Linked DNA regions of Homo sapiens: all the other regions are linked to region 2. Evidence: fine-mapped expression QTL. A gene starts in region 2. Each other region holds a variant in brackets. All regions are shown on one strand. Distances are from middle to middle.

What was found. PIP is the estimated chance that this variant, and not a neighbour inherited with it, causes the effect. A credible set is the group of variants that fine-mapping cannot tell apart.
Region 1: its variant is the best candidate, but not a certain one, in a credible set for the expression of FIRRM in whole blood (INTERVAL, PIP 0.83).
Region 3: its variant is the best candidate, but not a certain one, in a credible set for the expression of FIRRM in whole blood (TOPMed, PIP 0.67).

Annotation. Positions count from the first base shown.
Region 1 is chr1:169,659,472-169,663,713 of GRCh38, forward strand. LOC107985745 (a long non-coding RNA gene) reads left to right here and starts at 2,861. Exons shown (of 3, transcript XR_007066727.1): 1 at 2,861-3,052. The variant G/A (reference allele first, on the strand shown) is at 2,492.
Region 2 is chr1:169,793,417-169,797,658 of GRCh38, forward strand. It overlaps FIRRM (FIGNL1 interacting regulator of recombination and mitosis), which reads left to right and starts at 1,624. Exons shown (of 25, transcript NM_001320047.2): 1 at 1,624-1,699; 2 at 2,413-2,567. It overlaps METTL18 (methyltransferase 18, RPL3 N3(tau)-histidine), which reads right to left and starts at 1,491. Exons shown (of 2, transcript NM_033418.4): 1 at 1,399-1,491; 2 at 1-481. The coding sequence starts at 279. RefSeq lists an enhancer at 1,224-1,543.
Region 3 is chr1:169,638,285-169,642,526 of GRCh38, forward strand. No RefSeq gene overlaps it. Among named protein-coding and RNA genes, the nearest start is that of SELP, 10 kb to the left of the region's middle. The variant C/T (reference allele first, on the strand shown) is at 1,836.

The DNA of each region.
Region 1 (4,242 bases), 130 kb before region 2:
AAAAGATTAACAAAATACATAGACCACTAGACAGACTAATAAAGAAGAAAAGAGAGAAGAATCAAATAGACACAATAAAAAATGATAAAGGTGATATCACTGATCTCACAGAAATACAAACTACCATCAGAAAATACTATAAACACCTAGTGCAAATAAACTAGAAAATCTAGAAGAAATTGATAAATTCTTGGACACATACACTCTCCCAAGAGTAAACCAGGAAGAAGTTGAATCCCTGAATAGACCAACAACAAGTTCTAAAATTGAGGCAGTAATTAATATCCTACCAACAAAGAAAAGCCCAGGATCAGATGGATTCACAGCCAAATTTTACCAGAGGTACAGAGGAGCTGGTACAATTCCTTCTGAAACTATTCCAAAGAATAGAAAAAGAGGGACTCCTCCCTCACTCATTTTATGAGGCCAGCATCATCCTGATACAAAAAACTGACAGAGACACAACAAAAAAAGAAAATTTCTGGCCAATATCCCTGATGAACATCAATGCGAAAATCCTCAATAAAATACTGGCAAACCGAATCCAGCAGCATATCAAAAAGCTACCCACCACAATCAAGTCAACTTCATCCCTGAGATGTGAGGCTGGTTCAACATACACAAATCAATAAATGTAATCCAGCACATAAACAGAACCAATGACAAAAACAACATGATTATCTCAATAGAGGCAGAAAAAGCCTTCAATAAAATTAAACACCCCTTCATTCTAAAAACTCTCAATAAACTAGGTATTGATGGAATGTATCTCAAAATAATAAGAGCTATTTGTGACAAACCCACAGCCAATAGCATACTGAATGGGCAAAAGCTGTAAGCATTCCCTTTGAAAACCGACACAAGACAAGGATACCCTCTCTCACCACTTCTATTTAACATAGTATTAGAAGTTCTAGCCAGGCCAGTCAGGCAAGAGAATGAAATAAAGGGTATTCAAATAGGAAGAGAAGAAGTCAAATTGTTTCTGTTTGCAGATGACATAATTGTGTATTTAGAAACCATTGTCTCAGCCCAAAATCTCCTTAAGCTGATAAACAAATTCAGCAAAATCTCAGGTTACAAAATCAATGTGCAAAAATTACAAGCATTGCTATACACCAATAATAGACAAACAGGGAGCCGAATCATGAGTGAACTCCTATTCATAATTGCTACAAAGAGAACAAAATCCCTAGGAATACAACTTACAAGAGATGTGAAGGACCTCTTCAAGGAGAACTACAAACCACTGCCCAAAGAAATAAAAGTGGACACAAACGAATGGGAAAACATTCCATGCTCATGGATAGGAAGAACAAATATCATGAAAATGGCCATACTTCCCAAAGTAATTTATAGATTCAATGCTATCCCCATCAAACTACCACTGACTTTCTTCACAGAATTAGAAAAAACTACTTTAAATTTCATTCTGGTAACAAAAAAGAGCCCACATAGCCAAGACAATCCTAAGCAAAAAGAACAAAGCTGGAGGCATCACACTGCCTGACTTCAAACTATACTACAAGGATACAGTAACCAAAACAGCATGGTACTGGTACTGAGAGGTGACAGCGTGCTGGCAGTGCTCACAGCCCTCGCTCACTCTTGGCGCCTCCTCTACCTGGGCTCCCACTTTGGCGGCACTTGAGGAAACCTTCAGCCTGCCGCTGCACTGTGGGAGCCCCTTTCTGGGCTGGCCAAGGCTGGAGCCGGCTCCCTCAGCTTGCGGAGAGGTGTGGAGGGAGAGGCATAGGCAGGAACCGGGGCTGTGCGTGGTGCTTGTGGGCCTGCGCGAGTTCCGGGTAGGCGTGGGCTTGGTGGACCCCACACTTGGAGCGGCCAGCCGGCCCCACCAGCCCTGGGCAGTGAGGGGCTTAGCACCTGGGCCAGCAGCTGCTGTGCTCAATTTCTCGCCAGGCCTTAGCTGCCTTCCCACGGGGCAGGGCTTGGGACCTGCAGCCCACCATGCCTGAGCCTCCCCCAACTCCCTGGGCTCCTGTGCAGCCCGAGCCTCCCCAGTGAGCACCGCCCCCTGCTCCACAGCGCCCAGTCCCATCAACCACCCAAGGGCTGAGGAGTGTGGGTGCACAGCATGGTACTGGCAGGCAGCTCCACCTGCAGCCCTGGTGTGGGATCCACTGGGTGAAGCCAGCTGGGCTCCTGAGTCTGGTGGGGATGTGGAGAACCTTTATGTCTAGCTAAGGGATTGTAAATACACCAATCGGCACTCTGTATCTAGCTCAAGGTTTGTAAACACACCAATCAGCACCTTGTGTCTAGCTCAGGGTTTGTGAATGCACCAATCGACACTCTGTATCTAGCTACTCTGGTGGTGACTTGAAGAACCTTTGTGTCAACACTCTGTATCTAGCTAATCTGGTGGGGACTTGGAGAACTTTTGTGTCCACCTCAGGGATTATAAATGCACCAATCAGCACCCTGTCAAAACAGACCACTTGACTCTACCAATCAGCAGGATGTGGGTGGG[G/A]CCAGATAAGAGAATAAAAGCAGGCTGCATGAGCCAGCAGTGGCAACCCGCTCGGGTCCCCTTCCACACTGTGGAAGCTTTGTTCTTTCGCTCTTTGCAGTAAATCTTGCTGCTGCTCACTCTTTGGGTCCACACTGCCTTTATGAGCTGTAACACTCACCGTGAAGGTCTGCAGCTTCACTCTTGAAGCCAGCAAGACCACGAACCCACTGGGAGGAAAGAACAACTCCAGATGTGCCACCTTAAGAGCTGTAACACTCACCGAGAAGGTCTGCAGCTTCACTCCTGAGCCAGCGAGACCATGAACCCACCAGAAGGCCGAACACATCCAAACATCAGAAGGAATAAACTCTGGACACGCCGCCTTTAAGAACTGTAACACTCACTGCGAGGGTCCATGGCTTCATTCTTGAAGTCAGTGAGACCAAGAACCCACCAATTCCGGGCACATTTTGGTGACCACGAAGGGACTATCACCTATTGCCAAGCGGTGAGGCTATCGCCAAGCAGTGAGACCATTGCCTGTCACTGTGCGGCGAGACAATTGCTTATCGCCAAGCAGTGAGTACCATCGGACGCTTTTCACTTGCTATTCTGTCCTATTTTTCCTTAAAATTCGAGGGCTAAATACTGGGCACCTGTTGGCCAGTTAAAAGCGACTAGCACGGCCGCCAGACTAAAGACACGGGTGTCAGGCTTTCTGGGAAAGGGCTCTCTAACAACCCCCGACTCTTCGAAGTTGGGACTGTTGGTTTGCCTAGAACCAGCTTCCACTTTTCCTGTACTTCTGGGCTGAGCCGAGGGTTGACAGAGAGGAAAGCCATGCAGCTCCGGGGTCCTGACAACAAGTTGGTTGACCCTGTGGCCATGAGCAGAACTCTCAAAGGCATGTTGCCCAAGCGAGACTCTCGCCCATCTATCCTATCTATCCTGATGCTTGCCCCCTGGGTCCTAATGCCTGCCAGACAAACTTCCTCTTGCCTCTCTTCTCCGAGGTTAGTCCCACTTCTAAAAATTGCTACCTGTCTCTGGTGCTTTTCTAGTTTCTCCTATAAGAATGATTTCTAGAATAAACTCCAGGACTCTGTTACCTTCTTTAGGCACCCGGGCTCACCAATCAGAAAGACATAATTTTTGCCCAAAGCCCCATCATAGTGGGGACTACCTGGAATTTTAGGATCCCTCCTCAGACTAATAGGCATAACAAAAGCTATTCCTGAAGCTAGGATATGGGGAGCCTCAGAAATTGTATCCTTCCTATTCATATAAGTGAGGACAAAAGGTGTCACTCTTCCAACCCTGGAGATCACTTCCCTCCCTCAGGGTATGGCCCTCCACTTCATTTTTGGGGCATAACATCTTTATAGGAAAGGGGTAAAGTCCCAATACTAACAGAAGAATGCTTAGGACTCTAACAGGTTTTTGAGAATGCGTCAGTAAGGGCCACTAAAGCCGATTTTTCTCGGTTGGTCCTCCTTGTGGTCTAGGAGGACAGGCAAGGGTGCAGGTTTTCGAGAATGTGTTGGTAAGGGCCACTAAATCCGACCTTCCTCAGTTCTCCATGTGGTCTGGGAGGAAAACTAGTGTTTCTGCTGCTGCGTCGGTGAGCACAACTATTCCGATCAGCAGGGTCCAGGGACTGTTGCGGGTTCTTGGGCAGGGGTTGTTTCTGCTGCTGCGTCGGTGAGCACAACTATTCTGATCAGCAGGGTCCAGGGACTGTTGCAGGTTCTTGGGCAGGGGGAAAAACA
Region 2 (4,242 bases):
TTTTCCATGTGGCTCCAAGTTCCTTGAACTGCTGGCTGCACTGAGTGGACTGTCTGTGTCTTGAGAGGGAGCTGCATTTTCCATTGACTTATGTTCCCACAAGTGATCCTGAGGCAAGTCAAATTGTTCTGCAGAACATTTTCTGTCCCTCTCTTCTCCTTTTTGACTTTCTGAGACTGACAGCTCTTTTGAGGAATCCAGGGTCAAAGCTCCATCTCTAATGGGTGTTAATTCATTTTCCAGATGGTCTTCTATAGTGAAATTAAACTGAAAGGTCATCCTCTTATTAAATGCACACAATCTTTAAATTCAGATTCTTCAACTTCTGGATAGAATTTGATGATACACACAAATCTGCCTCAATTATTCAATTAGTTTTGTTGGGCCCAATTTCTCTTTAGCAGCTTATACATGGTAACAAATATTTAGAGATATTTCCAAATGACTTTTTAGACGTCTTTGGTCCTCTTTCCAAGCAGCTCTGGAAAGAAAAAAAAAAAAAAAAGAAAGAAAATGATGATTAAAGCAAAATGGCACATTTCACTAAAGTGTAATATTAAACAGCCACCCCCACCCCTCCCTGTCCCACCATACAGCTGCTTTTTCTTAAAAAGTTGTGGGGAAGAGAGAGAGATAAGAGATTTGGACACTCATACACACCTTAAGGGTTCCAAAGTGGGAGAAGAAAATCAACTATAAAAACAAACAGAAGAACAACAGCAACCACCACCACTACCACCTGGACAAACATAAAGTCCAAGATATTCAGACAGGACAGCCTAGCTACTTGCTGTCTTTCAGCTGTCTTGATTTGTGTCCAACCATATTCACCCCCTAAGCTTCCAGAATAACTTCACTTCTGTCTTTTACAGAAGAGGTGCAGTATTTTATTTTGGTAAGTCAGCGTCCCTTTAAAAACATGCATAGGTATGGCCTGGTGTGTGTAAATTCATCCAAGACTTCACTCCAAACATTTAGTCGAGAACAGCAGCCCTAAGTGTATAGAAGTGGGGGTAATTTGGCAATAATTAGTAAAGACTAATTCGGTGGCAGAGCAAACGCAAACTAGGGCACTGCAGTAGTTTGGAGAGACCTGTAGAAATAAGAAGCAACTTTATTGAGAATCTTCTATCTACTGCGCTAGACACTATACCATCTGCCTCAATTTTCACAGTTCTGGCAAGTGGGATCTTTGTTCCCTTTATACAAGATTTACAATTTGGGGGAGAGGCGGGTCACCCAGTCCCGCGGCTAGGAACGCGCCTCTTTCCTCTCCCATCACGCTGCAAGGCTTGGAGTCACTTCCGGCTGCAGGTCCCGGAACAAATCCGACCCCAGAAGTGGGGACTTCTGGCCCTCACCTCCCCATTTGAATGTAATGTTTACAGTGATCCAGACCTGGGGATGCTTGCTTCCCGACGTGTCCTGGGATCGCGCTTCTGAAAAAGCTCACCTCACAACGCCTCCTCCGGACCTAAATCGCGCACCAGTGAGTCGAGTCCTCCAGGGGCTAGAGAAGCCCGACTTTCTTTCCGGCCTTGAGGGACCCGGGCTCACCAAGAAACCAGCCGCCCTCCTCTCTATGGTTTTGGAGCCGGCGGAGAGCGCGCAAGGGTTGGCGGGACTGCGAGTTTCCGGTCTGGGCTTTGGCGGGTCTGGTTTGAAGCTCTCCTGTTTGACGAAAGTATGTCTCAGGAAGGTGCGGTCCCAGCTAGCGCGGTTCCCCTGGAAGAATTAAGTAGCTGGCCAGAGGAGCTATGCCGCCGGGAACTGCCGTCCGTCCTGCCCCGACTCCTCATATCCTTCCTTGGTTGTCACTTCTACCTAGAGAAGGGTGTGGGCGGGTCGCGAACCTTTCTCTTCTGTCCCTTCAGACCCACCGCCAGGCTGGGTTATATTACCGCGGCCTGAACCCCCTCTTTTCTTTGTCAGTGAGTGGGATGAAAAGTGAGGGACTGGAGGGGAAGCGACAACCGTGGTAGATTTAAGTAAGGCTTTGGCCCTGGAAAGCCTCGCGGACGTGTTCTGACCCAAGGTTTTAGCAGTGGATGTGGCGTTTTCTTCCATTCCTTCTTTCAGTTTTTCTGTACTCGTTGCTTGCAATTAAGTGTAAATACTTTTGCTAGTGGATAATGGGGGAGGCAAGGACTGAGACCTGCGGTATGACGATAGCTCTGGCTCTTAATAGTTTGAGGTAAAGCGAGATACTCTGAGCTTTTGTCTCCCGTAAAAAGGGTGGTGAATATGAATAAGGGCTTTCTTAGCGTTATAAGAATTAAAGGGCATAGTTCTGTGGTGTGAAATCTTTAAAAGATGTTCAGTAAATAAAAATGATTTTCCTCCTTCCCCTCTCAGACCTCTTTTTCTTCTTTCTTTCTTTTTTTTTGACAAGTTCTCACTCCTCTCACCCAGGCTGGAGTCTTTCTGAAAGAGTTCTTCCGCTTGTTGTTGGCTTTCAACTGTTGGATTTGAGGCGCTTAGCGCCTTCTTCGTCCGGGTGCAGCACATTCTTGATTGGTCTCATGCCTTTGTGGTTGTAAATGTGCCTGGAATCCTAGCCTTTCATGGTAAACCATATGTATATGTATCTTTTTCACAACATTTGAGCCCAGCTTTATACAATTACACTCAAAAGAAAAAAAGTAACCTTCACTTGAGAGAATCTCAATACTGCACAAATATTGTGCAGCTAAAGCCCTATGTAATCACATAGAAGTCATTCACCTAGGCATTAGCAAAATCTCAGAAGGTGCCAAAGCCCCCTTTTTTAGTTTTTGTGTAGGTACAGAACTGCCGTCTTCAAGGAGTTTCAACTTGAAAACAAATAGCCACCCTCAAAACATTCAAAAACACTTAAACTGCGTGCATAATGTGTGTGAGACATGGTGTTAGGCTTTGGGAGAACAGAGACACGGAACGTGATTCCTCTTCTTCCCCACAAGCTTATAGAGAGACTTCATTAAGTTGAAAGTCAACATTCCCACCTAGCTTTGCACTTCAAACGACATATTCAAAAAAGCCCAAACTTCCTCTAGTTTTCTTCATCTGAGTAAATGGTTTCACAAACTGAAACCTTGAATCCTCTCTGTCTCACACACCCGATCAGTAAGTTCTATTGTTTCTGATTCCAAACTATGTCTTGAATCAATCCGTTTATCTCCATCCTCATTGCTACCACTCTGATTCCAAACCCTTATCACCTCTCACTTGGAGTATTAATAGTTTCCTTGTTTCTACTCATAATTCATTATTCCAAAAAAGTTAAGAGGGGAAAAACATAGATCTCGTCATTTCCCTTTTTAAACCACTTTACCTTCAAGGTTCCAGGTGATCTAAGCCTTGCCCTTCTCTCATACCTAGTTAATTAACTACACTCTGTTCATGAATACATTAGGCTCACCTACCTCAAGATCTTTTTGCTCAGCCTGATTTGTTCTCTCAGCCTTTTGCATATTTCATGTTTATGTCTTGGCCCAAATGTCACTTCCTTAGAGGGGCTTTTTCAGAGCCTTCAATCTTAGGCAGTTCCCCCAAACGCAGTCTTACACTTGTATCACATTGGCCTGTTCAGTTTTCTAAAAAGCACATTACCATTAAAAGAAATGCTCTTGTTTGCTTTGTATATTTTCCACTTCTACACATTATGTTGCAAAGTTCATAAAGGCAGGATGTTGATTTTCTTCACAGCGTTACCCTCAGCACCTAGAACAGTGCCTGACACATAGTAAGCATTCATTAAAGGGCTAAAAATATTTCATGTTTTAAAAATACTTGGGAGTCTAATTAGACAATACTTTTTTTCAGCTTAATGGTAGTATTTTAGCTTCACTATTTTAACAAATGAAAAATTTGCAATAAATCTACAATGCCATTACCCCCCAAAATCTTTTTCATGTTTTGCATTTTACGTATTATTTTCCAGGCCTTACCTGCATGTCTGCATAATCATAACTGACTAATTTTGGAACAGCTGGTAATTATTTGAGCTTTACTGAAATTTTTTCATGAGGCCAATTCTACCCTACTGAACTCAAATTTGAGTTAATGATGACCTCATTTTGATTGCTGCTGTAAAAAATAAGATTTCGGAAGAGGAATGAATTCTTGTATTACTGTGGTAGGACTATGGGTTTTTTTTTGTTTGTTTGTTTGTTTTGAGACGGAGTCTCACCCTGTCACCCAGGCTGGAGTGCAGTGGTGCGATCTCAGCTCACAGCAGCCAGGTTCAAGTGATTCTCCTTC
Region 3 (4,242 bases), 160 kb before region 2:
GAAACCCCGTCTCTACTAAAAATACAAAATTTTCCAGGCGTGGTGGCACATGCCTGTAATCCCAGCTACTCAGGAAGGCTGAGGCGGGAGAATCACTTGAACTCGGGAGGTGCAGGTTGCGGTGAGCCAAGATCGCGCCATTGCACTCTAGCCTGTGCAACAAGAGTGAAACTCCGTCTCAAAAAAAAAAAAAAACCCAAAAAAGAAGAAGGAAATCCTGTCATTTGCAACAACATGGATGAACCTGTAGGACTTTATGTTAAATAAAATAAACCAGGCATAGAAAGACCAATATGTGATCTCACTTATATTTGGAATCTAAAAACACTGAACTCATAGAAGCAGAAAGTAGAAAGGTAGTTACTAAGGACTGGAGGTGAGGTGTGGGAATTCGGAAGATGTTGGTCAAAGGATACAGAGTCTCAGTTAGGAAGAGTAAGTTCAAGAGATCTATTGTACCACATGGTCACTACAGTTTATAACAATGTATTATATACAGATGATTCCTGACATAAAATGTTTCAACTTAGGATTTTTGACTATATCATGGTGCAAGAGCCATATTTATTCAGTATAGATTTATGATGGGGTTATGCTTGGATAAACCCATTGTAAATTGGAAATATCGTAAGTTGAAAATGCACTTTCAACTTTCAACATTTTCAGCTTATGATGATGGGTTTATCAGGATGTAACATCATTGTAACTTGAGGGGCATCTGTACTTGAAAATTGCAAAAAGAGTAGCTTGTAAATGTTCTCATCACACAAAAAATAATAATGTGAGGTCACTGATATGTTAATTAGCTTAATTTAGCCATTTCACAAAAGTATAGATATATCAAAACATTGTGTTGTACACCATAAATATATATAATTTTTATTTATCAATTACAGTTAAATTCATACATACATACATATACACATACCCACCAAAAATAAAGAAAAAAGAAAATGAAAAAGAAGAATCTCTAGGAATAGGAATGAGAAGAAAAAACTGAATTTGTTTAAAAGCTACTCAGGCTCAATACCATTTTCTCATATGGATATAATCTGTGTAGAAAATTTGGGTTGTCACTAAAAATGGGATATAATTCCAATATAATTTAATTAGTAGTGTTATATATCTGGTTTGTATTTTTTTTATGTCTTCAGATTATACCATACATTCCCAGAGGGCAGGGATCCTTTCCTATATTAATCTTCCATCACCTGAAGTATCTAGCAGAGGGCAGAGAGACACTCAGCAAATACTTGTTGATTCATTGGTTGATTCATTAGACCCCAAGGGGACACAATGAAAGTGCTCCCTCCCATGTTCCTCTCTGAATTCTATTTATCTCATTACACTGGTGCATTCAAATACACAAGAAATAGCTAAGTCCCTTTGAGACTCCTGAGAGTGTGCTAGCATAGGGATTCAGTCATGAGTATATCTCATGAAGCCCATGGTTTTGTTGGGGGTGGGGGAGCAGATATTAAATAAAAATCACACAAATAAATTCAGGAAGAAAAGAATGTGGTACAATGAAAGGGCATGATAGGAATTGGAAAACTCCTTTAAGAGAACAGACACTTCTCAAAAGAAGACATTTATGCAGCCAACAGACACATGAAAAAAAATGCTCGTTATCACTGGCCATCAGAGAAATGCAAATCAAAACCACAACGAGATACCATCTCACACCAGTTAGAATGGCAATCATTAAAAAGTCAGGAAACAACAGGTGCTGGAGAGGATGTGGAGAAATAGGAACACTTTTACACTGTTGGTGGGACTGTAAACTAGTTCAACCATGGTGGAAGACAGTGTGGCGATTCCTCAGGGATCTAGAA[C/T]TAGAAATACCATTTGACCCAGCCATCCCATTACTAGGTATATACCCAAAGGATTATAAATCATGCTGCTATAAAGACACATGCACACGTATGTTTATTGCAGCACTACTCACAATAGCAAAGACTTGGAACCAACCCAAATGTCCAACAATGATAGACTGGATTAAGAAAATGTGGCACATATACACCATGGAATACTATGCAGCCGTAAAAAATGATGAGTTCATGTCTTTTGCAGGGACATGGATGAAGCTGGAAACTATCATTCTCAGCAAACTATCGCAAGGACAAAAAACCAAACACCGCATGTTCTCACTCATAGATGGGAATTGAACAATGAGAACACTTGGACACAGGAAGGGGAACATCACACTCCAGGGCCTGTTGTGGGGTGGGGGAGGGGGGAGGGATAGCATGAGGACATATACCTAATGTAAATGACGAGTTAATGGGTGCAGCACACCAACATGGCACATGTATACATATGTAACAAACCTGCACGTTGTGCACATGTACCCTAGAACTTAAAGTATAATAAAATATATATATATAAAGAGAATGACTTTGGAGCTGAGGTCTAGGTTGGGAGAACTTTCTAGGCCAGTCAAGGTTTGGAGCAAGCAGCCTGGGAGCCTAGAGACAGCCATGGTGGCCTTGGGGCAGGAACAGAGGCTAGAGATGTAGGGAGGGCCTTGGCTATGCCAGGTCTATGTTAAAATTGAGTTTTCACATGTGCCATCTGTCATTAGATCAAATCAGAGACAGTTATTTCTTCAGGAAAATTTCACCTGCAAAGCTGTTTCCTCCACTCAGAAGACTAGGGAACTTTGTAAATAATAGGTTATAGGAAGACAAGTTACAATTTAAAAAAAAGAATTTACAGCTTTTTTTCTTTACTGTTAATATATGTTCATTGTGAAAAAATACATTGAAAGTTCAGAAAAGCACAAAGAAGGGGAAAAATTGCTCATAATACTGTCACCAATGAATCTGAATCACATTGTACATTGTTTTAAAATATGCTTTTTAATATTCAGTGATATATCATAAACCTTTTTGATGTTTTAAAATATATTTCTGTTCTAGTTACAACTAAAAAACTCCCAAATATATAAGTAGATATAAGTATAACTATACACATGGAGATATAGATATACATATAGATAGAGATACAACATAATGATGAGGAATGAAGATAAATTCAACCTCCCCACAGCTTAATGTCCTTAACAAAACTTCCCAGGGAGATGGAACACTTCTGGTCCATTTGCCTGAAGTGTCTGTCCCTTTCCTAATGTTCTCTCCCCTTGTCATGGAAAAAGATGCCAATTTTCCCCATACAGCTTTAGAAAGGTATCTTATACAAGTTTCATGAACTCGTGACTCTGCTTGCTGAAATGCCATTTGAATTGGCCTGTGGTATTATGCTCAAACATTTCTTTTCTTTATCTTTGCTCTCCAGTTTTTGAAAGGGAAGGAAAGGCAAGGAAATAAGTCAACTTAACAAAAGTCCCAAACAGTAAACATGAACTTTGAAAAAACTGTCTTCCTATATATCCTTAAATAGAAATAGGATCCTCAGGAAACACTATACATTTCCATATTTATACCCACTTAGCCCCACTTCATGGTTCATTTTTTCATTTTATATATTTTTGTGAGGGCCTGCTCTGTGCTATTATCTAAGCTACGCTCTGATCACACAAAGATGAATAAGACAGAGTCCCTGTCCTGAAGGAGCTCGAACACCTGTGGAGAAGTGAGCATATAAACAGATAATTATAGACAATGTCAAGGAGTCAATAAACACAGTCCCACAAAAGGGACTCCCACAAGAGACCCACAAGAGGCCATCTGACAGTCTGATAGTGGGGGTGGAGAGATGGTCAGAAAGGGTGTGGAGGAGAAACCCTTGAGCTGAGTGAAATAAGTTGGATTCTTTGGTGCAAACTCAATGGTTAAACTTGCACACAAGGAAAATGCTCTAAAATCAACAGACAAATTAGGAAGTGGTTTTTCTCCTTAAAAAAAGTTCTATCCTTCCCAAAGCATACTGTGTCTGCACGCTCCGATCACCAAAAGGCTGTGATAACCACAGAAGGGTTATCACCCATTCTAGAATACTAGAAACATAGTCACATGGGTGATCTATTTATAAATGAACACCATGATAGATTATTTAAAAGTCACTGAGGAAAGGAAGCAGAGATATTGTTATATTTATGAGCTGACATTATTCTTGGGCCAGACCCTGGCTACACATTTAAAAAGCTATATCTCATTTAATACTCACCACGACATCATGAGGTAGGTTCCATCTGCACAACTGGTCTGTCTACTTAGACAGTATTTTGATGTCCATTTTATTTAAAAGGAAATTGAAGATTAGAGCGTTAACTGTTTTCCT